Homo sapiens: one gene and its partners. The protein of the gene in region 1 interacts with the protein of each later gene in a pairwise test. Each region holds a gene or a part of one and is shown on either strand. Other genes may lie near its edges.

What was found. Proteins that work in one complex are often made in the same cells at the same time.
Region 2: the proteins of CNOT4 (region 1) and UBE2W interact in a two-hybrid assay, tested with the Homo sapiens proteins (one large-scale study listed by BioGRID and IntAct).
Region 3: the proteins of CNOT4 (region 1) and UBE2D4 interact in a two-hybrid assay, tested with the Homo sapiens proteins (one large-scale study listed by BioGRID and IntAct).
Region 4: the proteins of CNOT4 (region 1) and UBE2E3 interact in a two-hybrid assay, tested with the Homo sapiens proteins (3 studies listed by BioGRID and IntAct).

Annotation. Positions count from the first base shown.
Region 1 is NC_000007.14:135,499,788-135,503,775, reverse strand, and holds part of CNOT4 (CCR4-NOT transcription complex subunit 4), read left to right. Parts: intron 1-3,988. UniProt on the Homo sapiens protein: Has E3 ubiquitin ligase activity, promoting ubiquitination and degradation of target proteins. Involved in activation of the JAK/STAT pathway. Catalyzes ubiquitination of methylated RBM15.
Region 2 is NC_000008.11:73,805,561-73,809,548, reverse strand, and holds part of UBE2W (ubiquitin-conjugating enzyme E2 W), read left to right. Parts: intron 1-3,822; coding exon 3,823-3,898; intron 3,899-3,988. UniProt on the Homo sapiens protein: Accepts ubiquitin from the E1 complex and catalyzes its covalent attachment to other proteins.
Region 3 is NC_000007.14:43,939,750-43,943,737, forward strand, and holds part of UBE2D4 (ubiquitin-conjugating enzyme E2 D4), read left to right. Parts: intron 1-1,145; exon of another isoform or gene 1,146-3,076; coding exon 3,077-3,108; exon of another isoform or gene 3,109-3,204; coding exon 3,205-3,282; exon of another isoform or gene 3,283-3,988. UniProt on the Homo sapiens protein: Accepts ubiquitin from the E1 complex and catalyzes its covalent attachment to other proteins. In vitro able to promote polyubiquitination using all 7 ubiquitin Lys residues, but may prefer 'Lys-11' and 'Lys-48'-linked polyubiquitination.
Region 4 is NC_000002.12:180,986,919-180,990,906, forward strand, and holds part of UBE2E3 (ubiquitin-conjugating enzyme E2 E3), read left to right. Parts: intron 1-419; coding exon of another isoform or gene 420-476; intron 477-3,988. UniProt on the Homo sapiens protein: Accepts ubiquitin from the E1 complex and catalyzes its covalent attachment to other proteins. In vitro catalyzes 'Lys-11'- and 'Lys-48'-, as well as 'Lys-63'-linked polyubiquitination.

The DNA of each region.
Region 1 (3,988 bases):
TATATTTTTTCCTCTAACTTTTATTAATTCTTAGATGAGAATTAGGATTCTGCATTAAATCTTTCTGCACACATTTTTCTTACTGTCAGTAGGGACCTATGTCTTCCTTGGGTAAAGAAAATGTTATATTTTGGTTTTGCCATTTAAAATGATATAAAGACGTTATTAGTACTTTTTTAAAAAGGAACTTTTGGTATTTTTAAACAAGTACAAAAGTAGGTATGAACCACCATGTACCTGTTACTCAGCTTCAAATAGTATCAAATCTTAGTCATTACATTGTTTCATTCGTACTAGAACTTTTTTTCTTTTTTTTTTTGAGATGGTCTCTGTTGCCCAGGCTGGAGTGCAGTGGCATGATCCTAGCTCATTGTAGCCTTGAACTCCTGGGTTCAAGCAATTCTCCCACCTCAGCCTCTCAGGTTGCTCTGACTACAGGCACAGGACCATGCCCAGCTAATTTTCTTATTTTTTGTGGAAATGGGGGCTCACCCTGTTGCCCAGGGTAGTCTCAAACTTCTGGGCTTAAGTGATCCTCTTATCTCAGCCTCCCAAAGTGCTGGGATTGCAGGTGTGAGCCACTATGCTGTGATATAATAAAATGTCTTTATTTATTTATTTTGAGATGGTGTCCGACTCTGTCACCCAGGCTAAAGTGGCAGTGGTGCCATCCCGGCTCACTGCAACTTCTGCTTTCTGGGTTCAAGCGGTTCTCCTGCCTCAGTCTCCCAAGTAGCTAGAACTACAGGCGTGTGCCACCATGCCCAGCTAATTTTTATATTTGTGGTAGAGACAGGGTTTCACCATGTTGGCCAGGCTGGTCTCAAACTCCTGACCTCAGGTGATCCACCTGCCTCAGCCTCCCAAAGTGCTGGGATCACAGACGTGAGCCACTGTGCCCTGCCAAAATCAGGATTATTTAATCAACTTTTCTTTTTTTCTTTTTTTTTTTTTTTTTTGAGATGGAGTTTTGCTCTTGTTGCTCAGGCTGGAGTGCAGTGGTATGATCTTGGCTCACTGCAACCTCCACCTCCCGGGTTCAAGCAACTCTCCTGCCTCAGCCTCCTCAGTAGCTGGGATTACAGGCGCCCGCCACCACACCTGGCTAAGTTTTTGTATTTTTAGTAGAGACAGGGTTTCACCATGTTGGCCAGGCTGGTCTTGAACTCCTGACCTCAGGTGATCTGCCCGCTTCGGCCTCCCAAAGTGTTGGGATTACAGGCCTGAGCCACTGCACCCAGCCTTAATCAATTTTTCAAACAGACTTTGCTTATGGAACCACTTCTTGGAAAATTTGGCAGAACTTCTTTGTAGAGTTTATCTTGTCAAGAATACTTTCATAATGATATAATTAGCACTGTCCAAAGCAGTGTACAAATAATGTGTGCTACATGTAGTATGAGTCCAGTCTGTTTGTACAGGGATATCTTCAGACTAAAGTCCTAGGAGTGAGGCTTCCTGAAGAAGATGAGTCTTGAATAAAGATTGTGTACTGTTTGTATAGGCTAGCATATCCAGAAGGAGAACATTATGTACGTTCTATATAGGGAATGGAAGCATGTCTTAGTTCATTTTATGCTGCTATAACAGAATACCACAGACTGGATAATTATAATCGACAGAAATGTATTTGGCTCATGGTTTTGGAGACTGGGAAGAACCAGAACATGGCACTGGCATCTGGCAGGGCCGTCATGCTATGTCATCCCATGGTGTAAGGTAGAAGAGCAAGAGAGGGTGAGAGAACAAGAACAGAGAGGGCAGAACTTGCTTTTTATCAGGAACCTACTTCCATTACTATGGCATTATCATTGATGAGGGTAGAGCCCTCATAGCCTAATCACCTCTTTTAATGGCCTCAACTCTTAATACTACCACACTGGCAATTAAATTTCAATATGCGTTGTGGAGGAGACATTTAGACCACAGTAAAGAATGAGCAAACACTTGATAGGGGCTAGCATGATGTGAGAGGGATGTAAGGAGTCTGATCTCAATGGAATAAAGTGTTAATTACTGGGAATGGTGGCAGATAAATTTGTATTAGTAGGGTAGAGCTAGATTATGAAAGGTGTATTGGTGTCAGGTTGAATTTAATCTGCTAAGCAATAAGAAGCCAGTAGAGGTTGATAGGGAGCAGGAGAAAACATGAGAGTGTTTTTCAGAAAGATTACTCGTTCAATAGTGTGCAGCATATTTTGGGGATGACACTTGAGGTTTGTTTGAAAAATTAGAGACCAAGCCACTGAGGTAAGGAGCTATTCTGAGAGACGTTAGGATGGAAATTCTACAGGATTTGTCAGATAATTGATTCCATCTTCTCTTTAGTCCCTCATGCCCTAAAGTGACACCAAGGTTTTGAAGAGTAGAGAACTGAGGAAATGTGGTCTATTTGTCTTTGATAGTAAACTGCAATTTGTTATCCAAGCCCAGCTTTTGCGAAGAAAGTGATAGATGATTACTCCAATAACAGCCTCAAAAAGTTTTAGTAGGCCTGGTGTGGTGGCTCACACCTGTAATCCCAGCACTTTGGGAGGCTGAGGTGGGAGGATTGCTTGAGGTCAGGAGTTTGAGACCAGCCTGGCCAACATAGTGAAACCCCGTCTCTACTAAAAATACAAAAATTAGCTAGGTATGGTGGTGTGCCCCTGTAATCCCAGCTACTTGGGAGGCTGAGGCTAGGATAATTGCTTGAACCCGGGAGGCGGAGGTTGCAGTGAGCCAAGATGGCACCACTGCACTCCAGCCTGGGCTACAGAATGAAACTCTGTCTCCAAAAAAAAAAAAAAAAAGGTTTAGTAGAAAATAGCTACCAGTGTTTCTGAATGATTTTAAAGATATTCACTGGAGAATAGGAGCTTGGAAAATAAAGAAATATTATCTTTATTACAGTAAGAGAAATGAACATACTTCATTTGTAAAAGAGAAATTTAGGCCTTACCTGCTTCCTATGTGTATATTAGTTCAGAACGGTTATTAGGAGACTACTCACATTTGAATAGCTATAACCAGTAAATATTACTGGATGACTTTAATAATGGCCTGATCAGAGCTAAAGAAAATTCTGATGAAGTAGGGCATTAAATATTTCTAGCTACCAACTCCCTTTAAGGATGAATAAAGGTAGGTCCGCAGGCTGAGGAAGTATACAGGGAGATTGTGAAATGAAAACTTATCCTTTCATTTACTTCGATATCTTTGTTTTGCACAGGTAATATTAAAAAACAGGTCTGGTTAAACATCAGCCGTATATGTTTTGGTTGGAATTTTTTTTTTAAGTTCTGTGAACTTTGAAGTTTTTTTAAAATTCTTTGTTTTGGTTTGTAGACCCTGCATTAAGCCAACTTTCTGGATCTGTTGTGTATTTCTGGATAGCATACTTTGTTTTGTGAAGGAAAATTTTACATTTTATTTTAAAGCTGGGGGAAAAAAGTAGGTTTCTTGTTTCTCGCTTTGTAAATGAGGTAGATGAATAATACTGTATTGCCACTTATTATCTTCATGCTTCCTTCAATGTCTCAGGTATTCCTCTACTGTATGTAGCATGTGGATCTCAAAGTTTCCCACAGTTGAGTCTGAAAACATCTCAACTGTGCTTATAATTTTAAAATTAAACTTAATTTTACCATTTTCTTTATTGTTATTATAAAATATAGGACCTATCATAATGCCATGAACCTTTTAGTGACTTGGGAAATAGTGATTAAGATGATGCAACATAGTACATTATTGGGAAATAATCTGTTTTTCGTTGGCATCGCCTCTATCCTTAGACCTCTTTCATTCTAGTAATATGACAGAAATATTTTTGACATTTTAAAACTTCCTCATTTAGCTGATCGTGTGTGCTGTTGAAAATGAACACTAGAATAGAAAGCCATTGCCTTCTCCTTGGGGGGTTTGTTTTAACAGGGGTTTTCATGTTTTAATTTTGGATTTGAGATTTGAGTTGAGATATCCATTGTGTAGAGAATCTTGAGAAGGATTA
Region 2 (3,988 bases), on another chromosome or scaffold:
TAAATGTATCTGAATCCTCTGTACACTTCTGACACTCTTGTCATTCCTGCTTAAGGGTTAGTATAGCATAACATTTATGTATTTCTACATTTTAAAACCCCTCTTAAATCCCTATGAGGGTTTTCCTTTTGCATTCTGTTTAAAGGAGAAACAGCTTTGCCCTAGAGGTTAGGGAGTTATTTGTGTTTTACAGTTTTCTTTCCTTTTCTCCAAATTGAACTGATTGTCATTTTTATTAAATTAGTATTTGGAGAACTTTTAAGATAATAGTTCATTTTTTAATGATAGGTTATTTAGAATCTGAAGCACTCTAAGCCACAGCATGTGAAATAATAGGTTAAATTGGTTTTGTTTTGTTTTTTTACTCATTTGTTGCTTATTGCTGTTATATTTTCTCCTCTCACCCACCCCCAACACACACACACGTTTTAAACTTTTATGTGTAGGGCAAAGCAGTTTGTGGGTACAAGGCCTTCTATGTTCCTGTTACGCTTAAAGACTATAGAAAGGTGAGACGGTAACAACAGTATTTAATAAGAAAGTTATTAAGAGATTAATGTCAGCGATATCTGTACATAGTCTTGCATGTGCCTCATGATTATTAGATTTTATTTACATTTAAATATAATGATTTATTATTAAAAACTAGAGAATGACTATATTCTGTGTACTTCCTTCATCTTCCTCTAACCCTCACCATTCCCCTTACATTCTAGTTGTCTGCTACTAGTGTTTCTTGTACACTTAGTATAAGACTAATCATTCCATTTAAAGCACTAATAAACTATGTTTTTACTGTAATAGTTGTATAATATTTAACCAAGATGATAATACAGAAATCAAGATTTCCATGAAATACGATAAAATTCAAAAAACATTTACTAGGTACCTAGTATGTGCTACTTTTACTGTGCTAAGTGATAAGTTACAAAGATGAAGAGGAAATTTGCCTTGGCATTGAGACGATCTGGCATTAGAGAGATCTAAGCTCCAAAGAAACCTTAAAAAGTGTTTTAGGCCAGGTGCAGTGGCTCACGCCTGTAATCCTACTACTTTGGGAGGCCGAGAAGGGTGGAGCACTTGAGGCCAGGAGTTCAAGAGCAGCCTAGGCAAAATGGCTAAACCCTGTTTACTAAAAATAGAAAAATTAGCTGGGCGTGGTGGCGCATGCCTGTAGTCCCAGCTACTTGGGAGGTTGATGCACAAGACTTGCTTAAACCCAGAGGCTGAAGTTGCAGTAAGCTGATATCACGCCACTGCACTCCAACCTGGGTAATAGAGCAAGACTCTGTCTCAAAAAAGAAAAAAGAAAAGTATTTTAAATACCCATCTACACGTTTTATTATTATTAAAACGGGTAAATTTTATTCCGTAGTGGACATGGTTCTATGGGCTTTACTTTGTTAATTCTACTACTATTAAATATTTTACTTTAGGTGTTTGGGACTTTAGTCATAATTCTTCTATTCCAATTTCCTTTTACACAGTCAGGAGTGGTTCCATAAACTGAAGGTATTTAAATCCAGTATGTCATTAGATTGTAGTGGATTAAAGATAATTTCTGATATTGAGATCACAGGACTTTCAGTAAATTCCACTTTATTTGCATGCCTTTGTAATATATTTACATTGTTCAAACTTTTCAGTTTGTATCCCATTCCTAAAACAATTTCGTAAGACTTCTTTTGTATAGTTTCTTTTCCAAGAACTGTATCTCCCTGATCATTTGTCAGGGAGATAAATGATTTAAGCAAATAGAATTGAGTATTTCTTTTTTCTAAATATGTATTTTTTGAAGACTTTTCTGATGATTCTTGGGTTCTAATCAACATATACATAAAATGAGTTTGTGAAAGTATCTGCTCTAGTAGTACCAATTCCATATGAACATAGATTTAACTTTGTAGAATCATCCCTTCCTTGAAGTAGTCAGGCATCTAATTTCATAATATTCATTTTTTAGGAATTTTCTCAAATTGTGTCCACAGATTGACTTGGAATACCTAAATGTCTTGACTGTCTTATGCTCTAATGTTTCTTTTTGTTAAATGAAATTACTAATATTAACACATAAGAGCATTGTGAGGCTCAACTAGACTGATAGTTACATATATGAGTTTTAGAAGTGCCAAATGGACTAACTGTTTTCCTTCCTGCTATCACAGAGTCCTACTCACGATTGCTTTCTGGTTAGACTTTCCTTAAATGATGTCATACCAAATTCACTTATTTTCATTAGCCTCAGGTAGAGGAGAGGATTCCCTTAATCTCTCATTTTCATTAGCTTAGCTAAGCAGATTTAAGTCTGAAAATAAATCCTGCATATACACTATACAATATTTAATGATAGGAAAATAATCAAGTTATTGGAATGATTCCGAAAGGCATAAAGGAGACTAAAGGATAAGGATATCTATCATAGTATCTATAAACTTTAATATAGCTTTAATATAAATTTGATGTTTCCAAGTCTTTGTAGAGGGTAACATTTTCTTTTGTCTAGGCAGTATGCAACAAATTTCAGGAAAAGTCTCTTCCATAATATATCTTCAGTGTTGTTGGCATCACTTTATCTGCGGTAGCTCCCTTGCGGAGCTGCCATATATTTCTCATATATTGTTCTAGTCAGGGCATATGTTCAGCAGAAAGGCCAATTATAGTAGAAATGCCAATATATATTTTTCCCATTTTTTCTCTTAAATATTGTTTAGAAACTGAATCTTCTGGTCTATCTTTGATGGTATTCTATTACAGTAAAAACAGTTCTTTGTGGAGGTTTGTACATTGCTATACTTCTCCCAACAAATCTAGTTTAGTAGACTTTTCTGTTTTGTTTTGAGACGAAGTCTGGTTCTGTCACGCAGGCTGGAGTGCAGTGGCGCAATCTCGGCTCATTGCAAGCTCCGCCTCCCAGTCTCACGCCATTCTCCTGCCTCAGCCTCCTGAGTTAGCTGGGACTACAGGCGCCCGCCAACACGCCCGGCTAATTTTTTTTTTTTTTTTTTTTGTATTTTTAGCAGACAGGGTTTCACCGTGTTAGCCAGGATGGTCTCGATCTCCTGGCCTCGTGATCCACCCGCCTCGGCCTCCCAAAGTGCTGGGATTACAGGCGTGAGCCACCGCGCCTGGCCCTTTGTTTTATTATTTATTTATTTTTTGAGATGGAGTCTCACTCTGTCACCCAAGCTGGAGTGCAGTGGCACCATCTCGGCTCACTGCAACCTCCACCTTCTGGGTTCAAGCAATTCTCCTGCTTCAGCCTTCCAAGTACCTGAGATTACAGATGCCCACCACTGCGCCCGGCTATGTTTAAATTATTATGTGAATTTGACTTTTCTCATCAGTCCTTTTTCATTCCCTTTATAATTTATTTAATTTTTTGTTTGTTTGTTTTGAGACGAGAGTCTCGCTCTGTTGTCAGGCTGGAGTGCAATGTCACAATCTTGGCTCACTGCAACCTCTGCCTCCCGGGTTCAATCAATTCTCCTGCCTCAGCCTCCCAAGTAGCTGGGATTACAGGCACGCACCACCATGCCCAGCTAATTTTTTTGTATTTTTAGTAGAGACTGGGTTTCACCATGTTGGCCAGGCTAGAACCTAACACAGACCACACTCAAACACGCTTATTATTCCTTTTTTAAATTTAGGTGTTAAGCATACACATTTCCTGGAATACATTTATAGTTTTTATTCTTTTAGATATACTATTCATGTTTATATTGTTTTTTATGCATTCTGTTAATTTTTCTTAAGCTTTTATTAAAACTGTCACCCTCTCAGTTTTTCTGTTTTTCAACCTATTTAAATTATTTTTTGTTTCAGAGACGACCACCGGATAATTCTTTTTATGTGCGAACATGTAACAAGAATCCAAAGAAAACAAAATGGTGGTATCATGGTAAGCAGTTTGAATTTGTAATAACTTTTTAGCATTTTGATATGAAGATTATATATATTTGCTATAAGACTTGGGAAAAAGAAGAGAAGC
Region 3 (3,988 bases), about 92 Mb from region 1:
ATAAGCCGGAAAGAAAAGAATGAATATATGATTCCACTTACATGAAATATCTAGACTAGGCAAATTCATAGAGACAGACGGTAGATGAGAGATTACCTGAGGCTGATGGGGGGTGGAAATAGGAGAAATATTGTTTCATGGATACAGAATTTGTTGGGGGTGATGGAAAGCTTTAGAAATGGATGGGGGTATGGTTCTACAGCATTGTGAAGGCATTTCATGCCACAGAATTGTACACTTTAAAGTTGTTTAAATTGCATATTTTATTATATATTTTTAACTACAATAAAAAGAAATTTCACAAAGCTGGAAAAAAGGAGGGCATGGCATCATATGTGTGCCTGCATGTCCTGGGAGGGGACTGAGCTTAGAGGAGCCAGCGGTAGGCAGATGGAGCCACTGAAAATGGAGGACTCTAAAGGCTTTATGTGGGAGTTTAAATCTCATTTCTGGAGCAGAGCAGAAATGTTTCCCAGCTGCCTATGCAGAGTGTAAGAAACAAGAATGACTCTGCTCCACTGTCTCCTGGTACCTGCTCATCACTCTGCTCCCCACTAATCAGTGTTTACCTCATGTCGTCCTCACAAGCACCCCAGGTCTCCATAGCATGCTTCCCCTCTTACCTGTCACTTAAGATAATATCAGATTAAACTGGGGTCGCTGTAAGCTTGAACTAGTTCTTGTTTAGCCTTACCTGTCTAGAGGCAGCTCCTTGATGCTCAGCTCAGCTCAAATTTACCTTGCACCAGAGCCCAGTGCTAAGAGAGGCTAGCATCAAGGCTAGCCACCACAGTCAGACCTCAGTGGATGAGGTTCAGACAGCACTGGAAGCTAGCCTTTGGGGCCATTTCACACCCGCCTCATGGGCTCACAGCCATTTCCAGCATCCCTCCTGTATATCCTTTCTCGTCCTCTTGCTTTTGGGGCCTTCTCTTCTGACTCTGCTCTCAAGCACTGCTTAGTGTCCCAGCAGCCCTCAGGGTTAAAGTGAACAAGACCAGAGGATTCTAACCTTCCGTTCTGAAATATATTATCAAAACACTTTTATTTAATAAAGAATTCCATTCACATTAATGTTAGGCAAAATATGTCTACTTTCAACTAACGATTAGCATGAATTGGAATAAAAACAGTCAAAAGCAAAAAAAAGTGATATTTTTATTAACTCAGGCAGGCTTATTACAGGTAAAGGTGTTCTTTTCAGCACCATTTCTTTGAAATATTGAAAAGGGCTCATGGGCCACCTTGACTACTTTTGAACACCTCTAGGGGCTTGGGAAACTTCTGCTTTAGTCCCTGCACTTGTGCTCCCACCCCAAACCTTGGTGCTTTCCTAGGCCTCCTGTTGTGTAGAGCCTGTGGGGTACTTAAACAGGTGACAGGAAACCCAGGACAGGACCAGGTCTGAAACTCTGGGCTAATTCCATATCTACTATGAATCCATATGAGACAGAATTCTCTTGGTAATAACAGGCCCTTCAGATGATCCCAGCAACCCACTCCTGTGGGTGAGTAGGCATTTTCCACCAAGGCCCTAGAGTCAATATCCCTGGGACCATTTGTATGACTTGGGAGCCTTGAATGTGAGTGTTTGGGCCATACTGGGCTAGCCTTGCTGATACACAGGAGCTTTTCTGGGAATGGGTAGAGCAGTGAAAGTCACCTGAGATGCTGGAGAGGGTGTGATGTGCAGCAAGAGGGGGCTCTAAACTCTCACCAAATGGTGGTGACCTGGAAGGGAAGCATGAGAGGGGCTCATCGTGACCTTGTTACTGAGTGCCTAGAGCACAGGGCACTGCCCAGGGGTTGGGCAGGAGAGGACTCAGATGAAGGCAGCACCCTTGAGGCTCCAGGGCCACGGGCAGTTGGCTCCTGAGAGACACTCTTTGAAGAGGGCTTCACAATGAATCAGGAGAAGAACCAAGGAATAGAAGGGTTTATAAAGAGCAATAAGGAAAATGGCTGAAGCCTAGCCAAGGCTTAATTCTGTGCAAAGAACTGACTGAATTGTAGTTACTGGCATTTGTGTAGTAAAGAATTTAATCTTGGCTAAGCACAGTGTCTCACGCCTGTAATCCCAGCACTTTGGGAGGCTGAGGCTAGCAGATTTCTTGAGCCCAGCCTGGGCAACATGGTAAAACCCCATCTCTACAAAACAATAACAACAAAAAGAATTTAATCTTGTCCCCAAAAGATCTGGCCTTCATCCTTAACACGTAGGGGGCGATCTGTAAGATACCATACCTGATAGGAATGTCTTTGTTTGGCTGGAAGCTTTAATGCACACCAACAATGTGATTTAGGGTGAGGAATGGCCATACCAAGTAGACCAGCCATGTGATTTCAGGTGAGAGCCTAGCCCGGGCAACATAGCAAGACCCCATCTCTACAAAAATGAAAAAATAAAAGTAAAAAAATTAGCCAGATGTGGTGGCACACACCTGTTGTCCCAGCTCCTCAGGAGGTTGAGGCAGAAGGATAGCTTGAGCCCAGGAGTTTGAGACTGCAGTGAGCTATAATCATGCCACTGCCCACCAGCCTGGGTGGCAGAGTGAGACCATCTCAAAAAACTAAAAAATAAAATAAGGTGGGGGCTTGGATCATGCCTGGAGGAGCTGGAGACTGGAGCCTGAGATCAGTCCTATGGGCATTCAAATAAGTCAGTCATGCTCTCAGGGTGGAGCTCCAATGAGAATTCTGAATACGGAGGCTCCAGTGAGCATTCCTGATTGGGTGTTCTGTGTGTGTTGCCATACAGCAATGCCAGGAGAGTAACACATCCTGACTCCACGGAGAGAGAAGAATAGAAACTCTGCGTTTGGACCCTCCTGATGTTAACCTATGTTGTTTCCCTGTGATAACCAGCAATCTTAAGCACAACCACTTTCAGTGAGCTCTGGGAGTCCTAGGCAGTTATTGCATCTTGGGTGGTTTGGGGAACCCCAGTCTTGCAGTTGGTGTCAGAAGTGAGTGCATCTTGTGTAGACAGTGCGCTGTAATTTAGCAGTGCGTTTTCAGTAGAATGACATGTTTCTTGGGGGGTCTCTTACATGCCCGTCTCTCTTTTGTTTTGTAGTGTTCCACTGGCAGGCCACCATCATGGGCCCGGTAGGTAGTAGCTGCTGAGCGCACCACTCCAGTTTTGCTTCTTGCACTTTGGGCTTAGCACATGCACTGATCTCTTTCTGTGTCTCATCCTTCCAGAATGACAGTCCTTACCAAGGAGGTGTTTTCTTCCTGACCATCCACTTTCCTACAGATTACCCGTTCAAGCCCCCAAAGGTGAGGTCCCTCTCCCAACTCCCCTGATGTTTGGATGAAGGACAGCATGTGACAAGGGGCCCTTCAAGTCAGGTATAGGTAAAAAGAGCTGTACGTGGGGTTTCTCTGAGGGCCCACTGCTCCACCCTGTGGTGAGAGTTTCCCAGGACTTTAATTACTGGACTTTGGGAATTAGCACCTGTTGTGATCAAGGGTCAGTGGGGTGAGCTGGTGCTGGCCTTACTGAGGCCACAGTTTGAATGCTTCTCCTTGTGACTGTAGCTGAGTCTGGTCATGTCTCCAGGCTCTGGCTCCCTTCTCTGCAGTCCCTTAGAGTTAGGACAGGGGTTCTCAGCCGGGGTGATTTTGCTACTGCCCCAGGGACATTTGAGCAACATCTTAGGATATTTTGGGTTATCAAAACCGTGGTGAGGGAGTACTACTGGTATCTAGTCGGCAAAGGCCAGGGTATTCCAGGGATTCCCTGCAGTGCACAGGAGAGCCACCCTTCCCATGACAGATAATGATCAGCCCCAAGTGTCAATAGTGCCAAGGTGGACACACCCTGGTTTAGGACTGGTGAGTCACACCTTCACTTTTCTTTATTAAGTTAAAAGAATAGCAAGCCTCCTTTGCCCTTCATGCACACACCATCCCATCAGTGGAGCTTTAGAGAGCAGTGCCACCAAAGGGAAGGAGAAGCCCAGGGAGCTGCCTCGACCACCCT
Region 4 (3,988 bases), on another chromosome or scaffold:
ATATTCTTTAATTAGTATATAGTTATGTCTAGTACATACATACCCAGGGTGATCTTAAGATAGATTTAATTGAATTGTGTATGGCTTTATACATGTTTTAATATATTTTGATAGCATTGATATTTCTTTTCCCGATAGTGTAAAAGTTTGATAATGACGTTATTTCCAGTGATTTGATGTTATTTTAAATGGTTTTAGGTATTGGAGGGCCATGGGCCATAGTGTACTAAACATAGGGATATGTTTATTTATTGGTTTCAGTTTATGCTGTTTACATAAAGTATAAATAATTTATACATCAATGAGAGTCAAGGGAAATTGTGTTATGGGCATTTCCCTATTTGTATTTATTGAGAATTGTTGACTAGAATTGTTTAGTGATGTGTTATTAAGACATTTACTTTCCATCTGTTTCCCAGAGGGTGTCCTTGTCCTCTCCTAGTCACCACTTGTGCAAACAGCGAAAGTTTAGAAAGGTACTGGATTTCTAACTTAACCCCTAATTTCTTTCCATATAGGAAGAAGCACAAATATACTGACGAATATTTTAAGAGTGTATGTTCAGATTGAATCTATACTGGAGATATTTGGGGGTATTTGTATTAATAAATAGTTTCTTGATGTGGGAAAGGCCATATTGGGGGATATGTATTACAGTTTCAAGTTAATAGTATTAATATATTGACTAGCAAAACCTGAGATCAGGTGATTTCGTTGACTTTCTTCTTTAAAAATAAAAAAATAATGAAATCATAAAAGAAGCAGTTGTTTCTAAACCAGTAGTTGATAATCTCTAGATTCCTCATTAGCCTAATTGTCTGAGGATAAATTCTGCTTTCTTCTGAGGGTTGCTACCACTTTCCATCATTTTCTAGGGCGGACTAGAACTTTGCTACTTAAAAGAGTGAGCTGCTGACTGTCAGCATCTGCGTCACAGATGAGGTTGTTAGAAATGCAGACTCTTGCTTCCCCCAACCCCCAACCCAGAATTTGAATTTAACAAGATTCCTGGTGAATTGTATATATAAGTAGGTTTGAAAAGTGCTGGTACTGGAGCAAGACTGTCTGGTTTCAGATCCATGCTCTGTCACTAACTTGCTATGTTATTACCTTAGATACATTTTGGAATATTTCGGTTCTTCTCCTCAGTTGTAAAGTGGGGATTAAAATGATACCCCCCTTTATAATAGGGTTATTGTGAGGATTAAATGACTTAATGTGTTTAAGTTTTGTAGCAGTGTAAATCGAGTCAGTAAAGTGGCCACAGCAAGATAAAAATGGGAGAGACAGTGTAGCCTGTAGTGATGTGCTCTCACTGTTGCTGGCATTTTCTCTAGTGCATTGACATCTTATGTAATTTTATCTTAGTCAGTTCACCAGATAATTGAGTACAAGTACATAACAAGCAATTTGTTTTTTAATGTCAGTAAAAGCAGTTCCTAGGAACTTGCGTAAAAAAGAAAATTAGCCTAAAAACTTCAGGCATAGATGAACAAATATTGTATTCCTTTTAAAGGAACATGCATAAGATTAATGATATTTAATTCAATAGAGAATATTATGATTGTCCAGTAAAGTATAATAAACAATTTTTAGATGAGTAATGATTATATTTTCCCCTTTTAAAATAGAAGAATTTGTGATTTTACTGTGAATGGGATTATATCAGCAGTTGTAAAATTCACATTCTGGATTGCTGTTACCTGCATTACCTAACCCCATAGCATTCTTTCCATGTCTGTGAACTAAGGAGAAATTTTGAAAGCTTTTTTCTAATTGGCGTATGAAAGCAGGTAATAATTGAAATAACATGTGATCCCTATATTAGCTTTGTTGGTTGCTTATAGAGTACTTGGTTTTAAACTCTCTCACACATGTAGATAGACTGCTTTTTCTTCTTTACTTAATACATTTGATTGTTTTTGTTTTAGTGTTTGCTACAAGATTGTATCTCATTAGTTATCTAGTCCTTTTATTTTCAATTCTTCAAAAAAAAAGGTCCTGGAACCCGCTTTTTATAAAAATTAAATCTTAATTGGAAGCTCGACTGTAAAACAGATAAATACAGAACTACTCTGACAAAGTATTTTTCATCCCATTATGCCGTGGGTGGTCATCTACAGATAGTTTGTATTATTAGTTTTATTGTTAATAAATTCATTTTGGCATCAGCATAAACCTCAAAAATCATGAGGGTTTTTCTGGGGACTTGGGCGTTAGTGATAATTTTAAATGGTTTATGATCAAAGCAAATTGACGTTTTATTTTTCAACAAGCTAATAGTTTCTTCAACACAACTGTAATAAAGTACTTTTTTCATGCTGTATTATAATATTTGTCTGCTTTCTGCAAGAGCGAGTGTTCCTTGAATGGAGAGATTGTCTCATTCATTTTTGTATCTTTTCCTTACTTCACATGGTGCTTTGCATGTGAAGGTCTGTTAATAAATAAATTGAAGTCTCTCAAATTGACATAGAAATAGCAATTCCAGGCAAAACAATGACTTCAGAGAAAATTTATTAAATATCCTATACATTCTTTACCTTTTTCATAATTATGATACTTAATATTTAATAACCTATTCAAAGTTTACCTAGCTACTGTTTTTGCTTATAAGAGGAAATTGATACTCACAGTAGGCCTAGTTATTTCCTCCATACGTGCCAGTGTAGCAGAAATACTCAGTACTCTGTGTGACTGGAAACATTTTCCAAAAGAGTGACCAACTGAAAATAATATTCTTCCCACTAAACTTCACATTTTTATTAAGGATCTATTAAGTTCAATGCAGATAATGTAATTAGAAGGTGGGTAAAACAGCATGTGCTTTTAAAAAAAGTTATATGTTTACTTCGCAGCTACATGCTCACATAACCAGTCATATTCCTCTCATAACCAATTAGTACTTTATGCTCTCCTTAAATGAGTTGCTGTAACAACAGATGGATATGTTTACTTTTCAGGAAAATCAGCAAGTCTTGCATAGAGTGTAAGGACATTCAGATTGAGAATGAAGAACTTGTCCTTTCAGTCTCTTCTTCCCTATCAATATGAGATAAAAACATAATAAAATCACTTGTAAATCTAGAGAAATAGAAAGTGATTTTTTTTTCCACATACCAATTTTGACAGGTAAGTATATTTGGGCATTTTAATTGGAATCTGGAAGCTGAAACATCTTCAAACTTTTAACCTTTCTTTTGCCTTTTGATCAGTGGTTCTCAACTGAGGCAATTTTTGTCCTCCCCTTCCCCAGCCACCAGGCTAGGCGACAATTGGTAATGCCCAGAGATATTTTTTGCTTTTCATAACTGAAGGAGAAGGGGGCTACCACTGACATTAGTAGGTAGACGTCAGTGGTACTGCTGAATACCCTGTAATACATAGGACAGACCCCCACAATAAAGAATTATCTGGGCCAAAATGTCTAGTGCTGAAGTTGAGAGACCCTCCTATAGATATTTGTTCCTGTACTTTGCCTCTTGAATTTTTGAATAGTTTGCTTTTGACTGTTTTCCTGTCTTATTAGTGATGCATCCTTAATATATTCACCTACACCTTCCTCAGCTGATTCTTCACTTCCTGCTACTTCTATGCGTAGTTTACATATGTCTTATATTATTTGTCATACGTGTGTGTTATTTTTTATGTGAAACCACAGGAATGACTACCTTGAGTACTTGCTAAATTATGGTCTTCTGAGGCCAGAAATGCTTACAGCAGTATTTTATTTCTTTTAGGTCTTGTGCCAGTTAATTATATCCCTGCGTGATCTAGCTTTAGGCTGGTTATATCTATTATGTTCTACTAGGAGTACTAAAGTAACATCATGGAGAAATAACATTGGACAGTCATCAAAATTCAGTTTGACATTGAATTACACACAGGTTAGAAATGTGTGCTCTTCATTTGGGTTTTATTTTCATCATTATGACAATACACAAGTTACTTCAATTTTTACAAGTTCACAATCCTTTATTTGAAACCC